2 separate regions of the Homo sapiens genome follow, and region 1 is linked to region 2. Evidence: fine-mapped expression QTL. A gene starts in region 2. The other region holds a variant in brackets. All regions are shown on one strand. Distances are from middle to middle. Region 1 overlaps USP38 (ubiquitin specific peptidase 38). Region 2 holds the start of USP38 (ubiquitin specific peptidase 38).

Evidence for each region. PIP is the estimated chance that this variant, and not a neighbour inherited with it, causes the effect.
Region 1: its variant is fine-mapped to the expression of USP38 in blood mononuclear cells (TOPMed, PIP 0.99).

The regions. Positions count from the first base shown.
Region 1 is chr4:143,220,882-143,237,629 of GRCh38, reverse strand. USP38 (ubiquitin specific peptidase 38) reads right to left here. Exons shown (of 10, transcript NM_032557.6): 10 at 13,756-16,748. Among named protein-coding and RNA genes, the nearest start is that of USP38, 44 kb to the right of the region's middle. The variant G/C (reference allele first, on the strand shown) is at 6,598.
Region 2 is chr4:143,173,667-143,188,988 of GRCh38, reverse strand. USP38 (ubiquitin specific peptidase 38) reads right to left here and starts at 4,072. Exons shown (of 10, transcript NM_032557.6): 1 at 2,857-4,072; 2 at 1,028-1,163. The coding sequence starts at 3,538. It overlaps USP38-DT (USP38 divergent transcript), which reads left to right and starts at 4,128. Exons shown (of 4, transcript NR_185979.1): 1 at 4,128-4,481. RefSeq lists silencers at 3,681-3,930, 4,151-4,200 and enhancers at 3,252-4,136, 4,137-5,022.

The DNA of each region.
Region 1 (16,748 bases), 48 kb before region 2:
AGACGGAGTTTCACTCTTGTTAGCCAGGTTGGAATGTAGTGGCGTGATCTCGGCTCACTGCAACCTCCACCTCCCAGGTTCAAGTGATTCTCCTGCCTCAGCCTCCTGAGTGGCCGGGATTACAGGCACCTGCCACCATGCCCTGCTAATTTTTGTATTTTTAGTAGAGACGGGGTTTCTCCATGTTGGTCAGGCTGGTCTCGAACTACCGACCTCAGGTGATCCACCCGCCTTGGCCTCCCAAAGCGTTAGGATTACAGGCGTGAGCCACCGGGCCCGGCCAATGTTTCCATTTCTAATTCTGAACTCTATTCCTTTCTGAAACTTGTTTTTATCAAGATAATTCCCACATTATCTGTGTTAGATTTTTGATTACTTAGGAAAATGAAGCTTTAAAAGGATTGATTTTTACACCCATGCAACTTTTTGTATTCCTTCTGAAGTCTTTTGATTTTCACTCTGATTAAATGAACAATTATTATTTAACAATAAGCTGTGATTCTGTTAGGGTCAACTGTTTTGAATCTTTTGACATCTTTGGCAGGTTTCCCCAGGATCAAAATCCTAAGTTAAGTCTTATTGGCTTAAACTTAATTTTAAGATTATCTAGTTGGGCCCCTGGAGAGTTTCAAAGAATATATCTCTCATCTTATAGAGAGAGCAAATGATTAGACTTATTTGGTAAATTGTATGGGAGGCATTGTCAAATGGTAAGTAATAACAAATTTTCTCAGTTACATTTATTGGTATGTTATTGATGTCAATGTTACAAAAGTATGCAGATTCATAACAATATAATGCTAGTAGTCATAATTTTGGTTTTGTTAAATCTTTTCTAAAGTTATATTTGTATGGATATGTTATTAATGTGAATATTCAAGAGTATGTGAAACTTATTAAAATCTGATAGCCCTGATGTGATGTTATCAGTTATGATTCTGGTTATTATCTGAAAATGCTGCATGTAATAGAAATAACTAAATTTCCTTGTCAATTGGGAACTTTCATCAGATTTTAACCATGGCTATTTTAGGTTTTTGCCATCCATAGTTATTGTTTTGAACTCTTCTCTAAAAGCACTGGCAACCAACTACAGTCCAAAATTACTTTCATGAAAAGACTCTGACAAGTGCTCTTGAATACAGGCTTCTGATAACTTTGGAGATGATATCATTGAACTAGATAAAACCTTCCAGAACTCTAATAAAAAAAAAATGACGTGTTCATGAAGATTGCTAACATGACACCAAGCAGAACAAGAAGTACATGGGACTGAACTGATGAGGGAATAAAGTGATTTTTATGACCTTTTCATTGAAATATTGCTGATTCATTTTGTATTTTGTTTTTCAGAATCAAGAAAACTTATTTTCTTTTGAGCAATTTGTATCTTACAGTAATTGGTATTCTTTTGCAAGCAAAATTGAAACATTTACCTTTCTCTCTCTACCTGAATTCTCCAGGATTTGGAAAGTATTAATAAGCATTCTTATTTTATTTCAATATAGTTATTTGAATAAGTTCAATAGAATCTATTTTCTTTTGTTATAGGACATATTAGAAGCACTGGTTATTTTACCAAGGCTGTGGCTGGAATATTATATTTTCAAACATGGCAAGACTGCTTTGAAAGACTGGGATTGAAATTATAAAGCCAATATAAAGAGAAAGACTGGCCTGGTACCTGGTCTGCACAGCTCTCTTACAGGGTCCCTGACCTTGGGGTAAGTAAAGAATGTCACTTTCTGGCTGGGCACAGTGGCTCATGCCTGTAAGCCCAGCAGTTTGGGAGGCTGAGGTAGGCAGATTATTTGAGCTCAGAGTTTGAGACCAACCTGGGCAACATAGTGAAACCCTATCTGTACCAAAAAAAGCTTAAAAATTAGCTGGGTATGGTGGTGTGTACTTGTAGACCCAGCTACCTAGGAGGCTGAGGTGGGAGGATCACTTGAGCATGGGAGGTTAAGGCTGCTGTGGGCTGTGATCACACCACTGCACTCCAGCATGGGCAACAGAGCGAGACCCTGTCTCAAAAGAAAAAAATAAAAAGGCCAGCCACAGTGGCTCAAAGTGCTGTAATCCCAGCACTTGGAGAGACTGACACTGGAGGATGGCTTGAGTCCAGGAGTTCAAGACCAGCCTGGGCAATGTGGTGAGACCATGTCTTAAAAAAAAAAAAATTAGCTGGGCGTGGTGGCATGCACCTGTAAGTCCCAGCTACTCTGGAGGCTGAGGTGGGAGGATAACTTGAGACTGGGAGGTTGAAGCTGCTGTGAGCCATAATCATGCCACTGCACCCCAGCCTGGGTAACAGAACAAGGCCCTGTCTCACACACAAAAAAAGATGTCACTTTCTGACAGGCCAAGAATGTCAAGATACTTGGGGGACTTTAAGAAAAAAGGAATTCACCCCATTTGTACAGGCATTACACGCATATTCTCATGATGAATCCTTGATTTGGCTTGCTAGACTTGAGAGGCTCTTAAAAGTCTAATCCAAAATCCCTTATGAAAAAATTCCAGCAAAGCCAACTTAAAAAGGATCCTATGTGGGCAATGGCTATTCTTTTTACACTTTATGCAACTAATCAGGCAAAGTATAATAAGACTAAAATGTATATTGAGAATAAATTGGTGTTGCTGTGATTTCTCTTTAATAGAAAAGGGGGACTGAAGAAAGAAAAATAATGTTTCAGAAGAAAAGTATAGCACACCTGTTATTAGACTGTAGCCCTGACCATTGTTTTTGAGTTTTTTATTACTTGCCTGCAATTTGGACTGAATACTAGATTATTTTTTGGCTATGAGAAATCTCTAAAGAAGAACCTGGATTTAATTTTCTTCATGATGTTTTTAGTTGGCTCGCTAGTGGAATCAGTTCTTTTTTTTTTTTCATTTTGGCATACAAATTCTCTTTTTGATTATAATTCTTATGTGCAATATATTACTACTATTCAAATTATTAATGCTATGTATCTCTTGTTGTTTTACTTTCACAAGAAAACTAAAATCATGAAATTCCAAAGACTAAAGGTGATTCAACAAATGATAGCAGCTATGAATTGATGACACTTGTTTAGTCATCCCTGGGACTAAGTTCTGTATTTTGTTCTGGTTTTCAAGTTGTTATTATTAAAATCATAAACATGGTTGTGATTTTTCTGGCTACTTCATATTGTCTTTGTGAGAAAGACCCTGGAAGGGTTTTCTCACCAGATTATACTTAATAAACATAATGAACCCACTCTGAAAAGTCATAGGCTTAACAGCCAACCAAACTAAACAGAGGTTACAAAAATGCATCATGCTAAAAGCCAAAGAGTCCATGAAGTAAATAAATGCCAAAAGAAATCCACAGGAATTTAAATATAACTAAAATTGGCCAGGCACAGTGGCTCATGCCTATAATCCCAGCACTTTGGGAGGGTGAAGTAGACCGATTGTCTGAGCCTAGGAGTTTGACACCAGTCTGGACAACATGGTGAAACCCTGCCTCCATTTTTAAATAATAATAATAATAATAATAATAATAATAATAATAATAAATAACTAAAATTGCTAAACAAAGGGAACCCTCCTTTATGGATTTTAACTCTGTATTGTAATTAAATAGATTAAGGCACAGTTGATCATATGTTTTCTCTAAAAAGCCTAGTGCCTATTCTTCACAAATTGACATTTTTATACCTTATCTTATTCTGCCATTTCCAAATACTATAGCCTTAAAAAATCCAATATATATATTTGAAATTATTTGCCACCATTGTAGGAATCATAGACTATTTGATCTGACAGAGATCTCTTTCCAGGGTTTTTATTTCAAAATTAAAGAAAATACATATATTGTAATTTAAAAAATTACAGGGTTATCATTGGATTCTAAAAATGTCTCCTGTCAAGAGCATACTCTGGGCTCAAAACATTTTTTTTTTCTGAAGGGAAGTATCCCAATATTTTGCTTTAGGACTCTGTCTTATTTGCACAAGTGCTCTATCTTGCTAAATTAATCTTTCTCCTGCCCGTGCCCTCCGTCTATCATAAGGGTGTATTAAGATGTCATAATAATAAGTCTGTTGTCTTTCCATTATGTGCAATTGTGTTTTGAAGCAATGGTATTGCCTGCAGCAGACTCTGAGGTGTCTCTAGGGCCAACATGTGTTGTTAGTCGATCTTGGATTTGTGTTTTCAATGATTTCACACAGTAGGAAAGTTATCACTACAAATATACGATCTGAGAGAATCAATGCTTGGCATTTTGGTTAAGATGAAATTTCATTAAAACAAACTTTAATGCTGGCTTACAAAGGAGAAGAAGACATAGAAACATATACCAGTTTTCTCTGGACTAAATCACGTACCTGTGTCAAGGGATATTGGTAGCTCTACCTACTCAACTTGGTGGAGGAAAGGATAGGTGGGAAAAGTGAGGTAAAGTGGTTTTCTGAGACAATTCCATGTATTTATATGATCCTTAGGTTTTTTTTTTTTTTTCATTACCAGCTGTCAGAATTGCTGTTTCACTTTGGCCAATGTACTTTATTTCTCCTAGCCTCAATTATGTGGTATGTAAAATAGGAATAATGATACCTGTTAGAGTGATTGTATTGATAAGATTATAAATGTAAACCACCTAGCTGATTGGTTTAGTTGAAGTTATCTTAGTGCAAATATTAGAAACTCATTGAAATAACTTCAGAGGAAATAAAGGCTTATTAAGGAATACAAATATGGGGGAACCAAGGAAGAATTAGACAACCAGGGAGGAGAGGAACTGGTTTGTCTCTAAGGATTAGCCCTTCTCTGTCTTTTTTTTTTTTTTTCTGCCCCTCTCTACAGGTCTGCTTTTTGTCCTCCTTCTGTCAACCAGCTTCCTTATTTTACAAGTTACTCAAATGGCCTCTCTAATCTCCAGCCTATATAGTCACTTGGAACCAGCACCCACCACTAACAGGTAATTCTCTATGTCTCTTTATTTTACTTGCAGAGATTCCTGATTGTCGAAATTCATCTTTTAGAGCAAAGAAAGAAGTCCTGGCTTGTTGGTCATGTGCTGAATGGATTGTCTTTGAGGCCTGTATTTCCTGATTCAAAAGCAATGGAAAGGAGGTGCAGCATCTGGTGGGATGCTTCCTATGGAATGCACTCTGGGTGGGGCAGACAGTGATAAATAACTGTATAGGGATGTTTATTTAGCACTCCATAAATGTTGGCTCTCCTTATTGCCTTTCCTCTTCCTCCTCTCCTGAGTCATTTTCTTCCTAACACCGAGGTCCTAATGAGGGAATTACAGGCTCAGGATTACTGATGAAGGATGCCTGGGAGATAGGCCTCTGTGGAGTACATACTCATTTTCTACGCCAGTGAAGGAGGTTCCTTGTGAAATGATAAGCAATACTTATGCACTTTTTGCCACACTATAGCCAGAATGGATCTATCCTGTTGTAAGTAATTTTCTGCAATGTCATGGGCAGCAGGAGCTGTGATTAATAAATTGAAAACAGACCATAAATTCTATAACAGTTATCAAGTCACTATGACAAGATGTCTCTTGAAATCTACTGAAATATATAATTATTAGGCTGCTAGGACCCCTTTAGATATTTGCCATGCCCTTTAGATATTTACACTTGCCATGTGTAAGTGCAGCACCTCATATTTCCCCTATGACTATAATTGCTGGTTTATTTCCCTTCCCTGCCAGACTCTGAGCTACAAAATAAAGGTTGGGGCTGTGTCCACTTTGTTCAAGTTCAACTTCATTACCTTGCTAGCCAGCATTGTACCTAGCACATAGTAGATGCTAAGAAATATTTTCTTAATGATAAACAAACTTACATAACAGACTTACAAATGTAGCTGGTTTCCCTGAGACAATCACTGAATCATTTATGTACTTAAAAATTATGTTTTGGTCCATTAAAGCTCACAGTTATTATATTTGTCTTCTTTAAACTTCAAGTAAACTCAGGTTGTCTCCTGAGCATCTCATCTTTGAGAACTGCCCGTTCACAACAGTGGTATACATTGTATAAGTTTTGCCTGAAAAAGGGCACCCAGATGATGGTGCTTGAAAAGGGGTTGAAATTCAGCCCTCAAGAAATACAGTCTTGATTCGCATCAAGCCTCTTGGTATTGACTTCATTAGCTTAGAGCAAGAGATATTCGTTTCTTTTTGATTGTCCAAATAGGGCTGGTGCCTTTTTCTAATTGTCATAGACAATTAGACATAGGCACTAGGACAGCCTGGCCCACTCCACCATGGTGAACTCTTGATAGCTGGATTGCCTGGAAAATGGAGATATGAATTGTTTAAGGCATTTATTCCGAGTCAACAGTAGATCTGGGAAGATAATTTGCCAAATGGCACCCAATTTATTTTTTTGCCTCTAGTATTTAACACAAACTTAGCTCTTTATATAAGTGCGTAACCATGATGGCCTAATCATGATGTTCCAAAAAGGATAGTGGAATATGGAATAACTGTTCCAGACAATTGCTGTCCTGTTTATATTGGCAGCCTGAGTCCTTGTTGAAGATAGAATATTCTGGACAATCACTTTCCAAAGCCAGATTTTAAGGGTAGTTATAGTGTTTTCT[G/C]TATTCTAAGGCAGTGAAGATTGAGAAGCAAGTTTTGTATTATTACTATTATTTTACTTTTCATTTTGCAGTCATCTTAGCCATGAGTGAGGAAAGTAATAAACTTGTGTCTATTGGCTAATCTGCTTACGTAGTTGCTTCTGCTATTACTGAAAGCCGAGAGGGTGGAAATTACCCAATTCAAGAAATTATTCAGCAGAAACCTACAGAGGTGTATCACTGATTTCAACTGCAAATTATTTTTCCATGTTCTGAGCCTCGATTTCAATATTTTTCTCATTAACACTAGACTATGGTTTGAGAACAAACTGCTCCATACAGAACTAAATGAAGGTCAAGCCTGTCATTCACACTAAAAATGAAGTTCTCTGGAAATATAAGCTGCCAAAAATACAGAAAAGTAGTATTTATAAACATGTGTCTTGGACTTAGCTAAGTATAGATTATCGTGGAGAAATTAAAGGGCAGCAGTGCTAGTGCTCTGTACTGAAATATTGTGATTTTGATATCAAGACCATAACAACCAAAAGACAGGCATCCTGAAAAATATTCACCTAGTTTCAAGAAACTAGGATCAGCCAGGCACAGTGGCTCACGCCTGTAATCCCAGCACTTTGGGAGGCCAAGGCAGGTGGATCACGAGGTCGGGAGATCGAGAACATTATGGCTAACACGGTGAAACCCCGTCTCTACTGAAAATACACAAAATTAGCTGGGCATGGTGGCACGTCCCTGTAGTACCAGCTACTCGGGAAGCAGAGGCAGGAGAATTGCTTGAGCCTGGGAGATGGAGGTTGCAGGGAGCCGAGATCGTGCCACCGCACTCCAGTCTGGGTGAAACAGCAAAACTCTGTCTAAAAAAAAAAAAACAAAACCAAAAACCAAAAAACCCAAAAAACCAAAAACAAAAAAACTAGGATCAGTGGTAGGAAGTGGAGGACTGAGTATAAACCAAGACCCAAGAAATAAAAATAAACTTAAAAAGAAGACAAGATGTTCTAATGGGGTCTAGCAAGCAGACAGACTGGTTAATAAGTGGACAATAGCAGCAACATTAAAAAATAAGTTTATTGGTCTGTTGTCTTAACAATAGGGGAAACCATTAATAATATTGTAAGTTCTTCTTTCAGAAGTCACAGACGGTCCATTCTCTAAATGGAATTAAGCCTGAAGTTTCCAGGAAGATAGGTGCCCAGATTTTTTCCGTAGCATTTTCATTTATTTCAGTAATTAGACAACACATGTGTTTAATTTTTAAAGGGTACCCAAATAATGGACAGGATGGGAAGGAGGCATAAAATGATAAAGTGTAGTTTATCACCATTATGGCTTATCACTAGAGTTGTGCTGTTCATTATGGCGGCCATGAGCCTCATGGCTCATGAGCATCTAAAATGTGGCTAGTGCACCAGAGTAGGTGACATTTAAATTAAATAATGGATACTCAATTTAGATATATACAAACAGTTCATTTCATCCTGTCCAATTTTCTGCAACTCTCTTGTTTTAGGCCCATCATCCATCACTGAGGCTCTTCCAACAGCTTAACTACTTTCCTTTTCTAATGAAACACTCTGGGAGGCTAGACTCAATAGAGCTGCCAGTTATAATTAAAAATTTAAACTTTTTTTGAAGTACAAAAGACATACAGGGAAGCACAAAATTATAAGTAGATAGTTCCACATGTAATCACAAAATCAACACAACCTGGTAAACAAAGAACCAGGTAAAAAAATGTAACATTAATCACACCACAGAAGTCCCCTATTCATGATCTTTTCTGAACACTTCTCCTTCCCTTTCTCCAAAGTTAATATTGTCTGTACTTCTCATACCACAAATTAGCTCCCGCCTGTTTTATAGAAACAGAATCATAAAAGTGTGCATTCTTTTGTTTTTTTTTTTTTTGAGATGGAGTCTTGCTCTGTCTCCCAGGTTGGAGTGCAATGGTGCAGTCTAGACTCACTGCAACCTCCACCTCCCAGGTTCAAGTGATTCTCCTGCCTCAGACTTCCGAGTAGCTGGGATTACAGGTGCACACCACCACACCTGGCTATTTTTGTATTTTTTGTAGAGACGGGGTTTCACCATGTTGGCCAGGCTGGTCTCAAACCCCTGACTTCGTGATCCACCCACCTCGGCCTCCCAAAGTGCTGGGATTACAGGCTTGAGCCACCACGCCTGGCCACAAGATGGGCATTCTTTTGTGTTTCCCTCAGTATTATGGTTGTGGAATTCAAATGTTGTGACGTGTATCTGGAGTTTATTCATTTTTGCTGCTGTAAAGGAATTTAATATATATGAATGTCCATCAGAATTTATATTTTGCTAAAAGCAGCAAGAAAAATGCATATCCACAGATTACTTATCCATTCTTTTCTTCATGAATATTTTGGTTGTTTCAAGTTTTAGGCTACTATGAATAATACTGCATTGAACATTTAAAACTGTTTCTGTGTACACAACATTTAAAATGTGCCTTCTGCACACATTTTTTGTAGCATCTCTCTTTAGCAGTGAAGTTACCAGATAACACAGTAGGCACATGTTCAGTTTTAGAAGATAGTGCCAAACAGTTTCCAAAGTACTTTTATCAATTCACGCTCCTGTAAGTAGTATATGAGAATTAACTTTCTATATCCTCACCAATGTTTGATATTGACAGTTTTTTTAAAGTTTATTCATTCTATGAGCATTTAATGGCATATTATTGAGGTTTGGTGATTAATGAAGTTCAGCACCTTTTTGTATATTAGAAATTTATTTTCTTTGGAAGTGCCTGCTCTTTTGCTCATTTTTCTATGGCTTTTCTATGTTGATTTGTAGTTCTTTATACGTTCGCTTATGATTTACACAGATGTACCATTTTGTGGCTTTGTATTTTATTATTATTATTTTTAATTAGAGACGATGTCTCACTAAATTGCCCAGACTGGTCTTGAACTCCTGGGCTCAAGTGATCCTCCCACCTTGGCCTCCCAAATTGTTGGGATTACAGGTGTGAGCCGCAGCACCTGGCCCATATTTTATTCTTAATGGAGTTTTTGATGAAAAGCTTTTCATCTTAATGTAATCCATTTTATCACTGTTTTCCTTCATGACTAAGGATTTTTTGGTCCTGTTTAAGAAATCTTAACCATACACCTAGATTTTGAAGATGTTCTAAGTAATCTCTTTGATGTGTTATTTTGCCTTTCAGTTTACAGTTAAAATCCACTTGAAATACATTTTTTATATATAGTGTGCGGTAAGGGTTTTCTTTTATCTTACATGATTACCCACTGTACCACTAAAATTTATGGAAAAGACCATCCTTTTCACACTGAAGTGTCACCTTTGTCTAGGGGCCAAGTCATTGCAGTTTGCCTGGGACTTTCTTGGTTTTAGCTGAAATTTCTATGTCTTGGGAACAGCCTCAGTCTCAAACAACTAGGATGGTCACATTATTTTTGTCATAAATCACATATGCATGTAAGTATGGGCGTATTTCTGATAAGTCCCCTTATCTTAATTATTTTAGCTTTATAAGTTTTATCTTGTAAAGAAAGTCATTCTACCTTGTTCCTCATTTCCAAGAGTCTTGACAATTTTTGGACTTTTTCCCTTTACATTTCCGAATCAGCTCAATACAAAATAGAATTCCCAGATTGGGATTGCATTGATTCTACAGACTGGGAAAAGTTGGCTATTTATTTTGAGGACAAATTAGGTATTTATAATATTGAGTCTTCCAAGCCATAATTTATCTAGGTCTTCTTTAACTTCCTAAATAATGTTTTATGGTATTGTGTGGCAGTCTTATGCATCTTTTATTTCTAAAAAGCTGTTTCTAGATTTCTAAAAAATTGATTTTTTACATTATTGTCAATATTTTAAAATTTCATATTCTAATACCTGTCACTGGTGTATAAATATACCCTTGAACTTTGTATATTAACTTTGTATTTAGGAGACTTGCTAAACTCAATTCTAGAAGTTTATGTGTAAGTTAAAGATTCTTACTTTGGATTCTACATAAACAGGTGGCTGGGTCACAGGCTGTAGTTTGCCCATCTCTGTGTTAGTCCATGTTTATACTTCTTTTCCTGGGAGTCTTTGTCTGTACAGTGTGTGTTTGATGCACAGTGGATGCAGCAGGAGGTCCAAATTGCTGCTCATGGGCAGTGTGTCTTGAGCTTCCCAAAACTGTCCCTGCTTTCTTGTTCTGGAAATTGAGTCAATGGTGCCAAATCCATTTCCAAATCTTCCTTCCTTTTTGTAGATCCAAATCTCCACCTGGTATGCTCTCTTCAGCCTGAAGAATTTTAACCTATCTTTTAGTGCAAATATTCAAGAAAAAAATTCTCTCAGCTTTTGTCTAAAAATATCTATTTCCCCTTCATGTTGAATGAATCTTCACTGGATATAGTGAGTATTCACTAGGTTGACTTTTTTTCCCTTCTGCACTTTTTAGATGCCATTCCACCATCCTCTAGCTTTCATATTCTGATAAAATGACTGGTCTTTTGTTTCTCTATATCAAGGATCAGAATTTTTAAATGTACCACAGTAAATATTTTAGGCTCTGCAGGCTGTATGGTGATATGGTTACACCATAATCAATCTCATCTTGGATTGTAATTTCCAGGTGTTGAGGAAGGAACCTGATGGGAGGTGATTGGATCATGGGGATGATTTCCCTCATACTGTTCTCAGGATAGTGAGTTCTTACAAGATCTGATGGTTTTATAAGGCAGTTTTCCCTGCTCTCTCTTGCCTGCCACCTTGTAATACAAGCCTGCTTCCCCTTCTGCCATGACTGTGTTTCCTGAGGCATCCCAAGCGATGCAGAACTGTGAGTCAATTAATCCTCTTCTTTATAAATTACCCAGTCTCAGGCAGTTCTTTATAGCAGCATGAAAACAGACTAATATATATGGTCTCCGTCATAACTACTCAGCTCTACCATTGTAGTGTAAAAACAGCCATACACAATAGGTTACAGGTATAGCAGTGCTCCAATAAAACTTTACTTACGAAAAAGCAGGACGCAGGATAGACTTGGTCTGTGGGCTCTGTATTGTTTGCTGACCTCATATTCTTTTCCTCTGGGTGCTTTTAATTTTCTCTTGGATAACTGACTCTCAGATCTTCCATTTTTCTCTTCACTGTGCTCATGATTTTCTACATTCCTCTTAAGCTCCTACTTTGCAAATTCCTTTCTTTCCATAATTTCTGGATTTTTCTCCTTCTTTGAATGCCTCAGACTTTTTGATCAGATGCTGGATACTGTGAATTTTACTTTCTTAAATGCTGGGTATGTATACTGCATTTCCTTAAAAAGGTTGCCATTTGTTCTGTATGCAGTTAAATTACTTAAAGAATTTAACCAGCATTAGAATTTGATCCTTTTAAGACCTACTTTTAATCTTTGTTGGGTGTAAACTTTATACTGTAAAGGATTAGCCTTTACTCCAGTGTTAATTTAGCCCCATTGCTAAGCCATGGCCTTCTCAAAGAGAAGCACAATACACACCTCAGGATAAAGGCGGAGACTAATCAGCTTGGGAAGTCAGTATGAGAAGATATGAACATACTGAAGAGTAGGAGGTCATTAGTCCGCTGAAAGCTGGGAAGAGAAAGTAGCGTAAGGGGAATGGTATGCTATCCTGAGACCTGAATGTGCAAAGGTCTCGAGATGGCAAGTATATGGTGCTGTGTGAAAAAAAATGATGCAAGGTCCAATATGCATGACAGAGGGCATAAAGGCAAGAATGGAAGAGATAAGCCTAGTAAAGCAAACAGAAACTACGCGGGTAAAACAAATGAGTTTAAGAACCACATTTCTCAACCCTTTAGATTATCACATATAGGTTTTAACAAAGTAGATCTTTTTTTTTTTTTTCTTAAGGAATCATGTTTGGAGTGCAAAAGGATAAAGGAAACACACTGATATTTCATTTTACAAAATTCATTGTTAAGCTTTTGTTAATATGTAATTTGCTTTAGTCCTGTTGCTCCATTAGAGTATTGACTTTGGAGCTCTGAAGACTTGGGTTAAAATCTTAGTTCTGATTTTTACTAGCTGCACGATGTTGAGCAAGTTCCTTAATCAGAATCTTTATTTTCTTTGTCCATTAAGGGGTAAGGGAGGATATGGGTATGAGCCCACTTACAGGGCTGGTATAAGTTAAAAAGACACATAAATATCTGCCAGTGTCCAGCACACGGTAGACTCTTGACATATGTTAATAATCCCCTTGAATGAAAGACCTATGGGGAAAAAATTCCTTTTGTAGTCCAGTTCTCAACCCAGGTGGCACATTAAAATCATGTGAGGAACTTCAAAAAACGTTGATGCCCAGTCTCCACATAATGTAATTGGTCTGGGATGAGGGTTGGGCATGGTATGATTTTTAAAAAGCTCAAGTGATTTCAACATGAAATGCAAGGTTAAAAACTGATGACCTGGCCAGGAAAGGCTAAATTTTTCACCCTCTGAAATCAAGGGATGTGTGTGTGTGTGTCAACAACACAAGCAAAACATGAAAACATGAGCTCCATGAAGAGAAAAACAACTGCAGGTCATAACAGACACTGACGAGAGCTGGCAATACACTTGGCTGACTTCTTAGATTCTATTTTTAATGTTAAGTCCACACTGGTTATGTAACAGTGGGGCTAATGGTTTTACATAATAAATCCTTTTGAATTTGTGAAACCTAGACTGCTGATTTTATAAAAATCTTGATTCTCATTTCTTTAGAAATTATTTCTATACAAATTTCTTCATATGGGAAAGCTTTTTTTTAAACAAGCTAGTTTTTTAAAGCAGTTTTTTTTTAATCCCCCATTCATTTTAAGGTTCGTTCACTTCTAAAAAAGGACTGTAAGAAAATTAACTTAGGCTAACACTGAAGATACATAACAGTTTGATAAAACTTAAGAATATACATATGAAACAGCTTATATTTTAGAATTATTTGTTTTTTGGGGATAGCAACTTTTAATTCAAATTTCCTTACTGTTGCACTTCTTAGTTACAGGTTTGCATTATCTAAGATTTAACCTTACTCCTCTGATGTTACTGAGTTGCTAATAATAACCAGTTAGCATTTCCTAGTATGTTTTTGTAAAATGTGAATAACTTACTCTTCTCTACTTCAGGAATATTTAGTTTCAGAAATCTAAACTCATTAGAAAAAACGTATGATGAAAGGATATATAAACTATCACATTTTTATGAGAAAAAATACTATATATAAATGTACAGTATTTTTGAAATAGTCATTTTAAAAGAGCTCTTTATATGGAATGTATCATGTGAAGTACACAATCATAGGAAAAGATGGACTGAGAATTAAAGACCTGGAACAAAGTACAAAGCATCAAAATGAAGATCTCCAGTAACTGGACAAACAGTGCCAATTATTTTTTTCCTAAACTGTGCTGGGCACACAATAAGCATCCAATTCCACTTATTATAAGATGATAGCTTTAAAGAGGTGTATGTGAAAAGAAGACAACTACTTTTTTAAGGATTATCATACAAAGAACAGAACTGAAGAGAAAAAAATTATAGATTTGAACTTAAGACTTAGCTTGAAAATTTTTGTTCTTTCCACATGTGCATTAATGTAATAGGCTGTTTGAACCTTTCGCATGGACCCCCCAATGCCTCTAGCATCATAATGAATTTTTATCTCTACATCCAAAGGATCTACCAACAATTTAAGGTATGGAGATAAAAGTCAGGGATCTCCAGGGATATACTGCCCTGCTTCTCTGATTATTTAGCTGGAAGAGAGGCAGTGGGAAGATGCTTGAATGGAAAATGAGCTAGAATCCTTCCTTCAATTTGATATGTTAATGCCATAAATCAGAGTTGCACAGGCACCTGCTTAGTGGATAGCTTACTGGAGCTTGTGTGACATCATATATATTTCCTTCTTTGCATATCTCTAAACAATTTTTTACTTTAATTATGTCAATAAACATCTTTGAAAGAAAGACTCAGATTTGTAGTTTTTCATTTTTGCTAGCAGTGAAGCCTAATGCTTCTTAGCAGCAATGAGCAACTTCATTTAAACTGATTACTCTGACTAAGGAAAGAAAAACAACAATAGTACTCTACTCAGTCTTCAGAGTCAAACCTCACAACAGTTGGAGCTAGTACACGGGTTAGGAATATGGGAGAAAGAAAAGACCTAATATGACAAATAAATCTGTAATTAACAGGGATCTGTTAGAATCAGAACAGTCCTGAGTATTACCTTACTAAAAAAGTTCAGATGCATAGGTTTTGAATGAAGTTTCTGATTATTCTGGTTCCAAATATGTTGAATTCAACAAATCACGTAAAAAGTTACTGTATTTTTAATGTTAAAAGGAAGTCTTCAAGTTTTTGGTACTGGTATGAGTTATCATTTGAATACTCTTCAGTGTTACTATATTTAGTCAGCTTTCCATATCCTCAGGCTCTGTATCCTTAGATTCAAACAACTTTGGATAGAAAATTTAAAAAACCAATAAATATCATAAAAAATAGTACAAATGAAAAAACAATATAACAACTACATAGCACAACGTAAGTGCTATGCAATCATATCTAATCATCTGGAGATTAAAGTATATGGGAGGATGTGCACAGGTTATATGCAAATACTGTGCTATTTTATATAAATAAGGGACTTGAGTATCTGTGGATTTTAATATTGGGGGATGGTGTTCTGGAACCAATCCACTGCAGATACCAAGGAAAGACTCTAACTAGAATTCATTTTATCATTTAAAAAAGTCAATACATATTATCTTGATACATAAAATCCTTGAGAGACCTGATATTCATAGATAAAGCTGCACAAGTATAATTGCTTTTATGAAAGTTCCTAGAAGCATCTTAGCCCAATATCAATCTATCAAGTATTAAATCACTTTACCAATTTCAATAAATGCCAAGACTGATATAATCTGGTCGTAAGTTGCTATCAAGTAAGTGGATAACTGAACACACAGGATAGCTCAGAAATTCACTATTGGGATAGGAAAACCACAGAAAAGCATGATAACTGGTTCATTCATTTATAAGGAGGAGAACCTTCATTAAATCTGCAAAGAATTTTCAGTTTTTAATCTAATCTGCCTTCCTAATCTTCCTGGTGATTGGAAACAGGTTAGGAATGGGAGGTAATGGAATAAACATGAGGATTTCTGTTTTTTAACCACTGTCATAAAAGCTTGGGAAAAAGATAAACCCCAAATCATCGAAGAACATTGTTTCCTTAAAGTGTTTTCAAAATAAATATGAGACCAATCTTCAGAACAATGCACAACTGTGGATAAGTTAAAACCTTTAGGAAGGGGGATAACTGGGATAACTCTTGAGTACTGTATAATCAAGAACCAGGAGAACTGACATGTTTCCAGTTTCCTGGCAAAAGAAAAAGTGTAGGAAGGTAGGGTTTGGCATTTTAACATTTTATCTAAAACTACGAAAATAGAAACAACAGTGCCAAACATATGACTGAAACAAACAAACAAAAAACCCAAATGTAAAACTCTAAAAATATGTGATCAATGTTTAATATTCTGAGGAATAAGTAACAAAATCAAGACAGATTTTTTACTTAGCTGGGTTAATTTCCTCTGAATTCTTCTAAGAGTTAAAAATGAACTATCACATTGATTGATTTAGAACCATCAGATTTTACTTCTGGAAAATCTATTACCTTTCAAAAAGTTATAATTTTAATGTTAGCACGAAAATTACTTCCTAACATTTCATTAAAATTTTGCAGCCAAAGATTCCTATTTTTGAATTACAGTACTGCAAGGCACATACAGAACTCACCTCCTTCAAAACCACAGAAGATATACTCCCTGAAATAGAATTTTAAAATCCTTGAACAATTAGAAATACTATAAAGTTAGCATTTTTTAGGTAAAAATGTTGCTCCTACAGGATCATGCAACTTTCTTAAAATCAATTCAGCACATATGTATAAAGAATCCTTTTTAAAAACATTTGTACTTGAAATACAGACACAGTGATGCTGAAGACACTAAACAAAAACTGAAAAGTACTATATCTTGATAAATTTTGTTATTGCCTTCTTTAGAGACTTTATAATCTCTAGTTGATTTTCAAGGACTTGAATTTAATAATGGGGTAA
Region 2 (15,322 bases):
TTATCATATTTAATCAAATCTAAAACAAAACCAATTTTAAGATGCATAATTAGCTTATATACCACTAAGGCAAGAAAAGCCGTGCCAATTTAACTAGGACATGAATGACTAGGCATTTCTACATTTAAACATCTTTGAAATTAGAAGACATGTTGGAATCAGTGAAGTGTGTTATTAAATTACTGTCTGCCTCCCCAACTAGAATGCAAGCCTATAAAGGCAGATATTTTTATCAGTTTGTTTGAGGACATTTTGAACACTGCCTGGCACTCATGGTAAGTACTCAGTAAGTGTGGTTTGAATAAATGAATGAATGACTGAATAAAAGTGCCAAAGTGCTAAGAAGGGCAAATAATATTAAGATTATACCTAGAAATGCAAGAATAAAATTACAGAACATCAAGGATAAAGAGAACATAAAAGTTTCCAGACAAGCTGACTACTCACAAAGGAATGACAGTCAGATTGACAGCTGACTTCCCACGAGCAACAACAGATGCCCAAAGGTAATACAGTATTATTTTTAAAATGCTAAGAGAAAATGGCTATCAAATTAGAATTCTGTATCTTGCCAAATCATCTATTTAAAACTGAGAAAGAAAAAAAATTCAAACAGGCAAAGGCAAAGAGTGTATTACACATTGAGCCTGGTTGAAAGAGAAAGTAAAGTATATACTTACTAAGGAAGAAAGAAAAAAAAACGCAGAAGAAAGAAATAGGTTGCAGGAAACAATAATGGGCAGTGAAATACTGTATACTGATAATCCAATCAACATCTGAGTGTATAATATGTGTATATGTGTGTATATTTTGGTAATTAAAAAAAGTTGAATTGAAAATAGATTTGTGAATTATTGGGATGCCTGTCAACGCTATAAACAATTCCAATCTATTTGGAGAATCTTTACATATGTCATTCCATGATTTTAGTTTTAAACATTCGTAAGTTTTTCATTACTCACAAAATACAAAATACTTCCTCTTCCCCAAATCTACAATTACCATTAATAGTGTCATGAAGAAGTACCTGCAAAGGGCTTGGGTCATACTTGCATCTTTTACATTTGGATCCGTAGTAAGGCTCCTGATGAGAACTGTAATCATCTGAAGAGGAATATGCTGCACAAGGCTTGCCAATGCTACAGAAGGTTCAAATGATGCATCTGTTTTTTCAATTAAAAAGAAAAGGGAACATGGCAAGTAGGTTCAAGTATTTAAAAAGAACAACACTTTACAAAAAAAAAAAGTCATTGCAGCAAAGGTGTTAACTAGGAAGGATTATTATGCTACACCCTCATGGGTAGACTCTTAATTTACAAGGAATGTTAAATTACAGGAATGAAAGATTAGGAGTGAACAGCAATGATCACTCATACTATAGACAGAATACTGAAATATATTGATATGGTTAGTCCATAAGTTACTTTAATTTTTCATAATTTATCGAGTTATTGTTGAGCTAAAATATTAACTTGTAAATCACTAATCAGAAAGGAAATATAAAGAAACATAAAGTATCATTTCAACTTCCACTTCAGACCCTCCAAAATAACTTTAAACTTATTGATCATTACATCCCTCTAAGGAAGATTTTGAAAAAATCTCTTAAAGTAGAAATGAAGGTGACTTTTGGGGGCACTTAAGTATCATTTCAACTCCCACTTCAGACCCTCCAAAATAACTTAAAACTATTCATCATTACATTGCTCTAAGGAAGATTTTTAAAAAATCTCTTAAAGTAGAAATTAAGGTGACTTTTGTGGAGATTTTGCTTAAACTGTATACAAATTAAGCAAATCCAAGACAAGTACCTTTACTGCTACAGTTCAAAAAATTTGGGAGGAACCTAACAGTTATGACAACACAGGCAATAGAAGTAAAATTACAATAAGAAAAAAAAACAAACCAACTCAGATACTGCAAATACATCGTTTGTAATTCTTTCGTAAATATATTAAATTCATCAGAACACAGAACGTTTGTTAAAACTCCACCTTTACTTCTGGTTCTTAAGATAAGAAGAGGACACATCCCTCACAAGTTCAATTTGAACAGCCACACAGTCCCCACTGGTGTTATAAATGAAGGAGAATGCTTGTACCAAGTAGAGCGGAAATGAACATGATTTTGAATCTATTCAGACCTGAAAGGTCCAAGACAGAACAACGAAGGTAGAGGTACTGGTAAAATTCCTCGGCGAGAAAGCATTTTCTAGGCAAGTATCATGTGACCCTTCTCTGCTTTCTGAGAATGCAGTTCATGGGCACAAAAACAAATATTTAAATCCTCGTACTCTTCCTTCCCTCATTCTATCTGTATTCCTCCTTTGTCTACTAGATACTGTAGACAAAAAATGTCACTATTTAAAAACTTCATAGTTATCTGGGATAATCCAGTAATAAAACAAACTGCACAATCCATTAATTCAAAAATGAGGAAATACAAAAATGGGGGAAAAACTCATTACAAAATTAGAGACACGTACAATAAATACTATGGTAAACATCATGCTACCATTAGTCACTAATGAATGGAAGCTTTCTGCAGTAGCTGTCATCCTCAAAGCATTCCAAATAACTTGAGCAGAGGCTGGGTAATTAAGCAACTTGTTTAGTGCCAAAGGTCTTAGACCTGGACGTTCTCAACCTTTAAAATGGGAACGCTGCCTGTTTTTAAAGTACGATGTGACGTCCTGAATAAGGTAGTGAATGTGAATAAATTTGGGATGAGGTATTAGGATTTGCTCTCGCTTAAGAATGTTTTTAGGGCAGGAGGAAAACATGGTGTGAATGTGTGTGTGCAAGAGAGACATATACTGATTTTTTATGAGATATTCTGAAAGATAATGACCCTTACCTGTGGAAGAGATGCTTGCAAAAACTTCTTGCAGGGAAGGCAGTAGTGTGGCAGGCTCGGCCTTCCAGATGTTCTGCAGCAAGTTACTCACTTTTGTCACCTGGGAGACATATTCCCGCAGCTCTCTTTCCTGGGTGGACACGCACTGGAAATGGCCTATCGTTCGAACCAGCTGTTGACAGAACGTGATGGACAATTTCCCCTTGGGGATGCATTGCACAAAGTCGGTCAGAAGGTCGCTCAGTCGGGCACAGAGCTGCGGCTCCGGCCTCTCACACACCATCCGTAACACCTCTACCTGCAGGAGGCTAAAGAGATCCAGCACCGACGGACAGCTCATAATCAGCTTCAGGCCGTTGTGAATGTAGTCCAGGATGGCTACATCCTTCCTGTCCAGAGAGTGGTAGCCCTGATGAAGGAGGCCCAACACGAAGGTCTTGTTGAAGAAGGACTCGAACTCTGGCCGGTGGTATCGTGCGTAGGCCTCCAGCACCTGGTGCCCCACCTGCCGCTGGAAAGGGTCCTGGCCCTCCAGGATGAGCCGGGTCGTCAGGTCAAACATGGCCTCGCACTGCGCCTCGTCTAGCCAGTGCTCCGCCGATTCCACCACCTTCCGCACAATCACCCGCTTGAGGGGCAGGGGATGCGAGGAACTCACAAGGCCCTCCAGGATCTTGTCCATTGTCGCCACGCTGCAAGGCCAGGGCCAGGGGATAAGGAGCGGGTGGCGGCAGCCCCGAGGTGGGGCAGGAGAGCCCCGGGGCGGAGATGAACTTGGAGCGCCGCAGCAGCAGCGCGACGGGCCACGGCCACCGCCGCCTCAGCAGCCACATTTATGGCGCAGGGAGACCCATCCAAGCCGGGGCGGGAGCTAGCGAGCCTGGAGAGCCTAAGAACCGACACCTGCGGCTGGCCTAAGGCGCCAGAGGCCCGTACTCCGCCGCCGCCCCGGGCCCTCGATCCCACTCAGCATCAGCGCCGAGGGGCCTGTCGGGCCCCCCAGCGGCGTCGGCGGGAGCTCAGGGCCCGGGGCTGCTAGCCGGCGGGTGGAGGAAGCACGCCTCCGAGTTCCGGGTCAGGTGTGGGCGTCCAGTCTCCAGCAGGTCGTGAGAAGAAGCCGGTCCTGGGCTGAGTCAGGAGGCGCTGTCACGGAGAGTGCTGGGATCAGCCGGGGAGAAGAGACCGAAGCGACACCCTTTGACCCGGATTTTGAAGTGCCGGCAAACAGGAAGTGAAGGACCTAAGAACCTCCGGAAGGACCGCCCCTCCGCCCCTCTGCCCCTCCGCCCCTCCGCCTGTCCGCCTCTCTCCTTCTCCCTTGTTCCCTCTCTCCCTCCCTGCTCCCCCACCTCCCTCCCGAGTCGTAGACTCCCTTCCCCCCGGCGCTGGGAGTCTCCTTCCCGCCCCGCCGCGCAGGTGCGGCGACGGCCGCGTCACTGGAGAGTGTGTCGAGTCACAGGCGGTCTTCCGCGCGGAGCGTCCCCGGCGGACGCTGCGCAGATGGCTGCGACTGTAGGATTCTTGCCGGCTAGTCTTCGTCGGTTCCGCCTGCGTCAGGTTACTCGTGAAAACTCGAATAAGTGCTATCGATGTGAAATCCGAGGAAAAGAGCATTTGGGGGAAAAGTAAGGAAAACTCAAAACTCGGATTGAGAAGTCTGCCTTGGCTCATTAATCAAGAATTGCGCTTGCGCGCCTAAATGTGACTGCCTTTATCCTGCGATGTCGGTATTGAAGTAAGAGCAATACTGGCGGCGTACCTAGCATTTAGCGACCATCAGTATCAGTAGCAGGCCTCTAGCAAAGAACCAGTTAGTGAGCTTTGTACCATATCGAAAATTATAAGCCGTCCAAAAAAGTGTGAGAGTAAGGAAAATGGCAGATTAGAATCAAAATATTTTTATACCTGTGTCATACAAGGGTACTTTGAAAATAGAAAACCAGGTGGAAATACCACAAAACTTATTGTATATGTTGACACCGAAGATGGTTTACAATAGGGAAGAACAGGTGCAATCATGCTTGTTCTGTTTCATGCCAAATTCCGAAGATTCACAGTAAGAATTTAATCAGAGGTCTTTATATTGGAAAATATTGCCTAACTGTAGCCTGCTTCAGGCTTGGTTAATATAGTTGTGAAACTAGACATTAAGGCCCTGTAATACAGACAAAACTTTAAAGAAATAGGTCATTTAAAATGTCCCGTAGAAAAATGAACAAAATTCTGTTACTTCAGTTTGCTAAATAGTGTTTTGTTTTTTTACCAAGTTACAAACACGATTACACTAATATATTCACACGTCGATTATGGTAGTCTTAAGAAGAGCAGTTTAGAGGAGACAGGAGCTTGAGTAAAAGGGAACTTAAGACCAAGTTGACTCGTAGGAAGATACGGAAGATAAAAGAGAATTGAGGTAATTAATCTATCAGTCATGCTAGAGACAGGAATGATTTTTCCAATAGGAGGTGAAGGTACACAGATGTTTGTCTTTACTGGGAATAATGCCACAGTGGAAGACAAAGGTAATATAGAAAATAAAATATTAAGAAGGAATTAAGTATTAAGAAGGATCGTGGATTTGAGGTGGAGTGGAGGAAATTTGGAATTAATCTTTGTGCTAAGAAACTAACAGGACGAATGAAGATTGCTGAATAGTACCAGCGAAGTGATTATTCCAAAGTAGACAAGAAAAAAATATTGGTAAATTTAAAACTTGACAGATTACTTTGAATTGTCTATAACATTTTCTTCTTTCTGTTAATATTAGGTCTTGAAAAATTGAATATTACAAAATAAGATGTCTGAGAGAACATAGTGCTATTAGTCCATATAAATTACATGTCATAATATTAGACTTCCAAAAGCACCATGACTCTGTATTTTTAAAATACCTCTTGAATGATAGATGCATGAAATGAAATACTAGGTTTTTATACCAAGATATTCAACGCTTATTTCCTTCTTTTGCCACTGGTTAAAAAATGTATGTAATATGCTCTTTTATAAGATTTCAATTGAAAGTGGCCAACTTTAAATTTATTTTATAGCATAACTAAAAGTTCTATAATAATACCATGTTCCTTTTTAACATTTTAAAATATTTTCAGAAGTCTGTGGAAGATTTTTTTGCAGTGAATCATGCCACTAATCATTGGATTAGTGGGTGCTATTGTAATGGGCTTTAAAATTTCATATAAAGATTTAGTCTAAGGCCTCAATTGCCAACTACATGGTTTTACAAATATGTTAGATCTGAGAATGGAAGCTGAGTGATGGGGATGAAAGAGAAAAAGCACAGGATAAGGAGTGATTGTTTATTTAGCAACCTCTGTGTGCCTGGAACTCAATATATTACACTTTATCCTTAGTTCTCAAAACGGGGTTTTGGAAATAGATGTTAATAGCTACATTTTATAGATAAGGTATTGAAGCCAAAGGAGGTTAAAAAAAATAATCAAGTCTGACTCTAGAGTCTCTATTATTTCCATCATACTATTAGATGAAAAGTGTGTGTATGTGTTTATGTTTGTGATAAGCAAAGAGAAAAGGCAGTTCCAAAAGCAGTGGTTAGAGTTGGCCAACTGCAATAACATTATTGTGAGGTTAGTTTTCTCTTAGGAAATTTATATCACCTAATAGAATCAAAAGCAAACTGATTGTATAGATTAGAGAGGACTGTGATAAATAAACCATCATATGAAGTAATTACAAATAATCCCTGACTTTATGAAATTTATATTCATATGTTTTTTAAGTTGTAAAGAAAAAAAGACTGTAAAGAAACACACCAACCACTTTGATATGGTTTTTGTTTTAATGACTTAAAATGGACATCAAGCTAATCTTACGACACTATTTCATTTAATTTTTTTCACAGTGCAAAGTGAAAGCAAGTTTATTAAGAAAGTAAAGGAATAAAAGACAATTAAAAATTAAAAATATACCATTGGCTACTTCATAGGCAGAGCAGCCTCACTACCCTATTTTAAATCTTCCAGTGCTTCTCCTCTTAAAATTCAAATGGCTACTGTTGACTTTAAGGCCCTCCATCAAGTTGCTCTTGTGTCTTTTCCTACTGTTCTCATTTATTATATGTTTACAGCCTTTTTCTGTTCTCTAGAATCTAAGCTTCATGAGGTCAAAAAGAACCCCTTAATTTTATTAGTTACTTCTATATCTAGCAGTTAGAACACTAGGGTAAACAATCTATCAATTTTTTTTGTCTGTGAGATGAAGTCTCTCACTCTGTTGCCCAGGCTGGAGTGCAGTGGTGTGATCTCAGCTCACTGCAGTCTCAGCTCACTGCAATCTCCACTTCCTGGGTTCAAGCAATTCTTCTTCCTCAGCCTCCTGAGTAGCTGGGATTATAGGCACCCACCACCACACCTGGCTAATTTTTGTATTTTTAGTAGAGATGGGGTTTCACCATGTTGGCCAGGCTGGTCTTGAACTCCTGACACAAATGATCCTCCCATCTCAGCATCCCAAGGTGCTGGGATTACGTGAGCCACCATGCCCAGTTCAATCTAACTATTTTTTGAATGAATGAACTTTTAAAAAATGAAATGAAAAACATGGTTTAGAAAAAGTCGTAAGGAGTCTACACAGTAATTTCTAGAACTAAAAAACAAACTCAGCAGGGTTTCAGAATATAAGATAATAGACAAAAATCAGTTGTACTTTTATGTACTAGCAATGAACACATGGAAACCAAAATTAAAAATATACCATTGATAATTGCTCAAAATAAAAACTATGTAGGTGTAAATCTGACAGTGGATGTACAGGACTCATGCTGAAAACAACAAAACACTGATGAAAGAAATCGAAGATCTAAATAAATGACCATATACATGGATTGGAGGACTCACCATAGTGTAGATGTTAATGATCTCTAAATCGATATGCAGGTTTAATACAATTCCTATTAAAACTCCAGGCAGGTTTTTTTTTTCTTCTTCATATACAGGCAAGATTATTCTAAAATGTATTTGGAAAAACAAATCAGAGTAGCTTCAACAATTCTGAAAAGGAGGAATTAAGTGAGAGGGATCATTTTACCTGTGTTTGTTCTTATGCTGCTAATAAAGACGTATCTGAGACTGGGTAATTTATAAAGGAAAGGTTTATAAACACAGTTCAGCATGGCTGGGGAGGCCTCAGGAAACTTAAAATCATGGTGGAAGGGGAAGCAAACATATCCTTTCACATGGCAGCAGGAAGGAGAAGAACGAGAGCTGAGCTAAGGGGGAACCCTGTTATAAAATCATCAGATCTCGTGAGAACTTATATCACGAGAACAGGAAGGGGGAACCTGCCCCCATGATTCAATTATATCCACCTGTTTCTTCCTTCAACACGTGGGGATTATGGGCATTGCAATTCAAGATAAGATTTGGGTAGGGACAGAGCCAAACCATATCACTACCCAAAAATAATACTCATTGTATGCCAGGGTAATTAAGACAGTATGGTAATGGCAGAGAGACACATAGATCAGTGAAATGGGCAACAATAACCTAGACCCACACAAATACACCAAACTGATTTTTGACAGAGATTCAAAAGCCATTCAGTGAAGGAAGGATGGTGTTTTCAACAAATGGTGCTGGAGTAACTGGATGTTCATAGGCAAAAAAGAAATGAGAAAATTCTATAACTGGGAGAAAACAACAGTACCACTGGACTGTACTGCTACAGGGTTTCACAGAAGCCCCAAACTTATTTGGTCAAATCTTAGTCCTGGAGGAATTCCAACCTTCCAGGGGAACCCAGTTGTTACAATATGTAGATGAACTTTTAATATCTGGCAAAAGGAAGGCCGAGTGATCAGAAACCACCATAATCTTGCCTTATTTTCTTTGAGAAAGGGGATTGCGAGTCTCTAAGAACAAATTGCAGTTTGTAGAAAAAGAAGTTAAATATTTAGGACACCTGATTGGTGAAGGGAAGTGGATAATAAACTCAGAATATTGGGAATAGTGGGTTTGCCTTTGCCTAAGACAAAGAGAAAACTCCAAAAATTTTTAGGTTTAACTGGCTACAGTAGGTTATGGATTGACTCATATGCTTAAAAGACAAAATTCTGTATCTCAAGTTACTAGAAGAGGAGCCCAATCCCTTGTAATGGTCCCTAGATGAAATTAAGGCAGTGAAAGAGCTAAAGCAGGCCCTCATTACAGTCCTGGTCCTGGCCCTCCCATCTTTAGAGAAACCATTCTATCTGTTTGTAACAGTAGACCGGGGCATGGCCCTTGGGGTGCTCACTCAAACCTGGGGAGGGAAGAGGCAACCTGTTGCTTTTGTCTCCAAGCTTCTCGATCCTGTCTCTCAGGGGTGATCTGAATGTGTGCAAGCAGTAGCTGCGACAGCCCTGCTGGTAGAGGAGAGTCGAAAGCTAATGTTTGGTGGGGCCCTAATAGTAAACACCCCACACCAGGTCAGGAATATATTAAATCAGAAAGCTGGGAGATGGTTAGTGGATTCTCAGATTCTAAAATATGAAGCCATATTACTAGAAAAAGATTATTTGGTTGTAACACCAGATACTTGCCTGAATCCAGCCAGTGTCCTATGGAAAGGAGACCAGAACAAAGAGACATCAGATCATAACTGCTTAGATACCATAGAATACCAAGCCAAAGTTAGACCAGACCTTAGGGAAGCTCCACTACGTGATGGATTAGACTGTTTGTGGATGGGTCATCCGGAGTGATAGATGGCAAGGGACTTAATGGTTATGCTGTCTTTGATGGAAATAAACACTCATTATGTGAGAAAGGTAGATTACCTAATGGCTGGTCGGCCCAAAAATGTGAATTACATGCTCTTGACCAGGCCCTAAAGCTCCTTGAAGGCCAGGAAGGAAATATATATACTGATTCTAAATGTGCCTATGGGGTGGTACACACTTTTGGAAAAATCTGGACAGAGCGGGGCCTAATAAATAGCAAGGGAAAAGAATTGGTACACGGGGAACTGGTCAAACAGGTTTTAGAAAGTCTCCTGCTTCCAGCAGAGGTAGCCATAGTTCATGTAAATGATCATCAGAACGGGAACACTATAGAAGCTGTAGGAAACAGGTTTGTGGATGAAGCTGCTAGGCAAGCCTCCCTGGAGGAAGAAATTAGACTATTTAGCCTGATACCAGACATCCCTAAGGTGGTATTAAGGCCTCAGTTTACCAGAGAGAAGAAGGAAGAATTAGGCAGGATAGGGGTCACTCAAACTGAAGATGGGAAATGGGTACTTTCTGATGGGAGAGAAATGATAAGTAAACCCCTGATGAGAGAACTGATGTCTGTATTACTCCCCAAAGGGAGTCACTGGGGACCCCAGAGTCCGTGTGATGCAATATTTAAGAATTATGGATAGATAGGGATTTATACCCTCGCTAAACAAGTATGTGGAAGTTGTGTAACTTGTCAAAGGATAAACAAAGAGGTGATTAGAAAACAGTTCATGGGAGGAAGACCTCCTGGACTAAGACCATTTCAGAGCATTCAAGTAGATTTCACATAAATACCCAAAGTAGGAAGACTGAAGTATTTACTGGTGATTATAGGTTACCTTTCCAGCTGGGTGGAAGCCTTTCCCCTTCCAACAGCCACTGCCAGGAATGTAGTCAAAATAATATTATAACAGACTGTACCTAGATTTGGCCTGGTGAAAAACGTTGATTCAGACAATGGCAGCCAATTTACCTCCCGGGTGTTAAGGGGAATTATGGAAGGTTTACAAATTAGATGGGATTATTACACCCCTTGGCATCCCCCTTCCTCTGGAAAGGTAGAAGGAATGACTGAAACTCTCAAAAAGCATTTCACCAAACTAATAAACTAAAATGCCTTGGACAAAATGTCTCCCAATAGCACTCCTTAGGAAGTCCCAAGAAAAGACTTGGGATTGTCCCCCTATGAGTTATTATATGGGCTCCTGTATTTGGGCAGAGCTACAGATCTTCCTACTATGGAAACCAAGGATCAGTTCTTAAGAAATTATATACAGTCATTATCCTCCACCCTGTCATCCCTTAGGTTAAAAGGACTTCTGACTCAAACTCCTCCTCTTGAGTTTGCAGTTTGCCACTTCCAGCCTGGCGACTAGGTGCTGATTAAGACTTGGAAAGAAGACAAGCTCCACCCAAGCTGAGAAGGTCCCTGTCAAGTGCTGCTGACCCCTGAGATGGCCATATGTACAGCTGAATGGGGGTGGACTCACTATACTTGTCAAGGGACTGGTAAAAGAGACCCTGGAAGGGTGGGAAAAAGACCAGTGGAAAGTACATGGGTCACCTGAGGAACCCTTAAAATTAACTCTGAGATGAATCTAAAAAGAAAACATGGGCTGGTCCCATTTCTGGAAATTAATATGGCTGGGATGGGCTACTATGCAAAGAGAAGAAGGTCAAAGTAGAAACTATCAGGGGACTCCTCCCTACCCACTCAGGTTGGTAATTAATGTAAACAAGATGGTGGCACCCAAGACTATAAGATTTGATGACTGCCAAGGTTTTTACCTTGTAAGAATTTGGAAAATCAGAGACAGCTCTCACATGTGGATAAATATCCACTTCATATGAGGTGCTTGGAATAGTCAAATTAGAGGTTTCTAGGGGCTAGGGAGAAAATAAATGGGGAGTTATTGTTTAATAGGTACAGAGTTTCTCTTTCAAAGAATGAAAAGTTCTGTAAATGGATAGTGGTGATGATTGCACAACAGTGTGTACTTAATGCCACCGAACTGTACACTTAAGAATGGTAAATTTTAGGTTATATTTTACCACAATAAAAAATTAAAATCAACAGTAAAGAAATCAATCCAATTAAAAATGGGCAAAAGATTTCAAGACACATTTCAATGAAGAGGATTTACATATGGCAAACAAATGGAAAGTTGTTTAACATTTCTAGCTAATAGGGAAATGCAAATTAAGACCATGAGATATTATAACACATTTATTAGAGAACCACTAAAATAAAAAATGGTGACAACATTAATGCTGGCAAAGATGCAGACAAACTGATTTCTCATACATTGCAAGTGGAAATGCAAAATGGTTTAACCACTCTGGAGAATTGTTTGGAAGTTTCTTAAAAATTAAACATGCAGCTATCATATGATCAAACTGTTGAACTACTAGGTATTTATTCCAGAGAAATGAAAACTTATGTTCACACAAATACATATACACAAATGTCCAAAGCAGCTTTATCTGCAATAGCCAACAACCAAAAACAATCAAAATTGTCATCAGTAGGTGAATGGCTAAACAAACTATGGTCATCAGTATGCTGAATGGCTAAACAAACTGTGGTACATTCTTACTGTGGAATATTACTTAGCAATAAAAAGAAAGAAACTATTGATGGACACAACTTGGATGGATTTCAAGGGCATTTTTATGCCAAGTGAAGAAAACTAATCTCAAAAGTCACATACTATGTGATTCCATTTGTACGACATTCTCAATATGAGGAAATTTTAGAGATGAAGAACAGATTAGTGGTTGCCAAGGGCTAGGTATAGATGGGAGAGGCAGAGGGATGAGTAGAACTTTTAATAAAGGGGTAGAATGAGGGTAATTCTTGTGGTGATAGAATAGTTCTGTACCTTGATTGCGACTGTTGCATGACTCCATGTGTGGTAAAGTGGCATGGAATTATACATATGTTGTATCAATATCAATTTCCTGATTGTGATATTATGCTATAGTTATGTAAGAGGTAACATTGAGGTATAACTGAGTGAAGAGTACAGAGGATTTCTCTGTATTATCTTTGCAACTTCGTGTGACTGTATAATGATTTCAAAATTAAAAAGTTTAAAACATTTAAGTCTTTAATCCATCTTGAATTAATTTTTGTATAAGGTGTAAGGAAGGGATCCAGTTTCAACTTTCTCCATATGGCTAGCCAGTTTTCCCAGCACCATTTATTAAATAGGGAATCCTTTCTCCATTTCTTGTTTTTGTCAGGTTTGTCAAAGATCAGATAATTGTAGATATGTGGCATTATTTCTGAGGACTCTGTTCTGTTTCATTGGTCTATATCTCTGTTTTGGTACCAGTACCATGCTGTTTTGGTTACTGTAGCCTTGTAGTATAGTTTGAAGTCAGGTAGCATGATGCCTCCAGCTTTGTTGTTTTGGCTTAGGATTGACTTGGCAATGCAGGCTCTTTTTTGCACCAAAAGCAGTCCTAAAAGGGACATTTACAGCAAGAAATGCTTATGGCAAAAAAGAGAAAAGATCTTAAATAAACATTCTAATTGAAAAAAAAGTTTAAAACACAACACCCCTTAAAAAACCAACCCTGGCCATAAGTGGCCTGTACTTTCAATTAGGTGACTTTAGTCTGCCCTGTTTGATCTTCCCCACCGAAACAAACCCCAAACTCCATAATATTTAGAAACTAAGAGATTGGAACTTCCGACATCATGTTTTTTATTTATTTATTTATTTTTGAGACAGAGACCCGCTCTGTTGCCCAGGCTGGAATGAAGTGGCATGATCTCAGTTCACTGCAATCTCCGCCTCCTGGGTTCAGGAAATTCTCCTGCCTCAGCCTCCCAAGTAGCTGAGATTACAGGCGTGCACCACAATGCCTGGCTAATTTTTGTATTTTTAGTAGAGACAGGGTTTCAACAGGCTGGTCTTGAACTTGGCCAGGCTGGCCTTGGAAATTCTGGCCTCAGGTGATCCGCCTGCCTCAGCCTCCCAAAATGTTGGGATTACAGGTGTGAGCCACTGTGCCCAGCCAGGATTATGTTTTAAGAGGCAAATGGATTCATGACTATGCATAGACAGTGGCCTATGCAGCCTATGAGGCCTACTACACATTAATTCTTGCTCTTATCTAACTAGATGTAAATGGGAAACAAGTTATTAATAAATCATTGTTGCTAGAAATAAGGGTTTTAGTTCTAGTATTTATTAAATACGATTAAAATGTAGGGATTATATATATATCTATTTGAATTCTGTGTAATAAGGATTCCAACATGGGCCCTCTATCAGTTGGAATTGCTGTGACAGATTCTTTATGAAAAATAATCTAGAGAGTAATTGTCTCAGTCAGCTTGGGCTGCCATAACAAAATACCATAGACTGGGTGGCTTAAACAGCAGAAATTTATCTTCTAACAGTTCTGGAGGCTGGAAGTCCAAGATCAAGATGCCAGTAGCGTTAGTTTCTGGTGAGTGCTCTCTTCCTAAATTGCAGATAGCTGTCTTCTTGCTGTGTTTTCACGTGGCCTTTCCTCTGTGCATGACAGGAGAGAGAAGGATCTCTGGTTTCTCTTTTTATAAGAACATGGGTTCTATTGGATTAGGCCCCACCTTTATGACCTCATTTAACCTCAGTTACCTCCTTAAAGGTTCTATCTTCAAATGCCCATTGAGGCTTAGGGCTTCTACATATACATTTTTTTGGGGGGGAAGGAGGAAAAAATTCAGTCCATAACAGAAACCAATTTTTTCTCTGTGGATTGCATTATTGCTATTACCTAATAGACATAAAGCTAGTTTTTCTCAATGAGACACCTAAAATTGAGTGACTTTTTTGAGTTGTTGCCAGATCTATTAATTAAAATTTTAATTGGGGTAGGGCACAGAAATCTGTGTTGTTAGTAGACCCCAATTGATTCTTCTGCATTACCACGTTTGAGTACATTAATCTAAGCAAACCCTCTCCCCACATTAAATTGCGGTTGAGAAACTAGATGGGGAAAAGTTAGGCGTCTTATTGACACAGCTATAACTTTACTAGGTTATGAATTTCTCAGTGTATAGTGGATTGCACTAAAGACTTTGGAGGGATGGTATAAAAAGAAACTCACTTTGAGAGACTTAAATATTGAAGGCATCTTAGACTGCTGGCAAAAGCCATAGCTGAAGAAGCAAGGAGACTAGGATTAAAATTCAAGCATGGTGAACCTCTGCGAGCGTCCATTCGTCTGATGCTAAATAATTCATCTTAATTAGATTAGTAACCTAAGACTTGATATTATAAGCAAGGGCAATTTAGGTAGTGATAATACTTACAAGATCTGCTTCAGATAGAGTTGGTCTAAACAAAGTTTCTTAGAATACTAAATTGTTTTTTAAATTAAAAAATTCGATTGCTGGTTGGCAGTTTAATTCTCTGTGGGGTATATGGAATTTACATTCAATATGATCCAAAGATGCATGATAAGTAAGTAAAACATATAGTGTGTTAGTTGGTGTAAAGTGCTATGAGGAAAAGTAATTCAGGGAAGGGGGTGATAGTAATTACAGTTTTAAGTAGTATGATCACGAAATGCTTGTTAAGAGTGGTGACATTTGAGCAAAGCTCCAAAGGACCCTGCAGACATCTGGGGGAAAGAGTAGTCCCACAGAAGGACCAGCAACTGCTATGGCTGGTGTGGCTGGAGTGATTTCAAGGGAGGCTGTTAGGAACGGAAGTCAAATAGCATGGGCTATTGCAA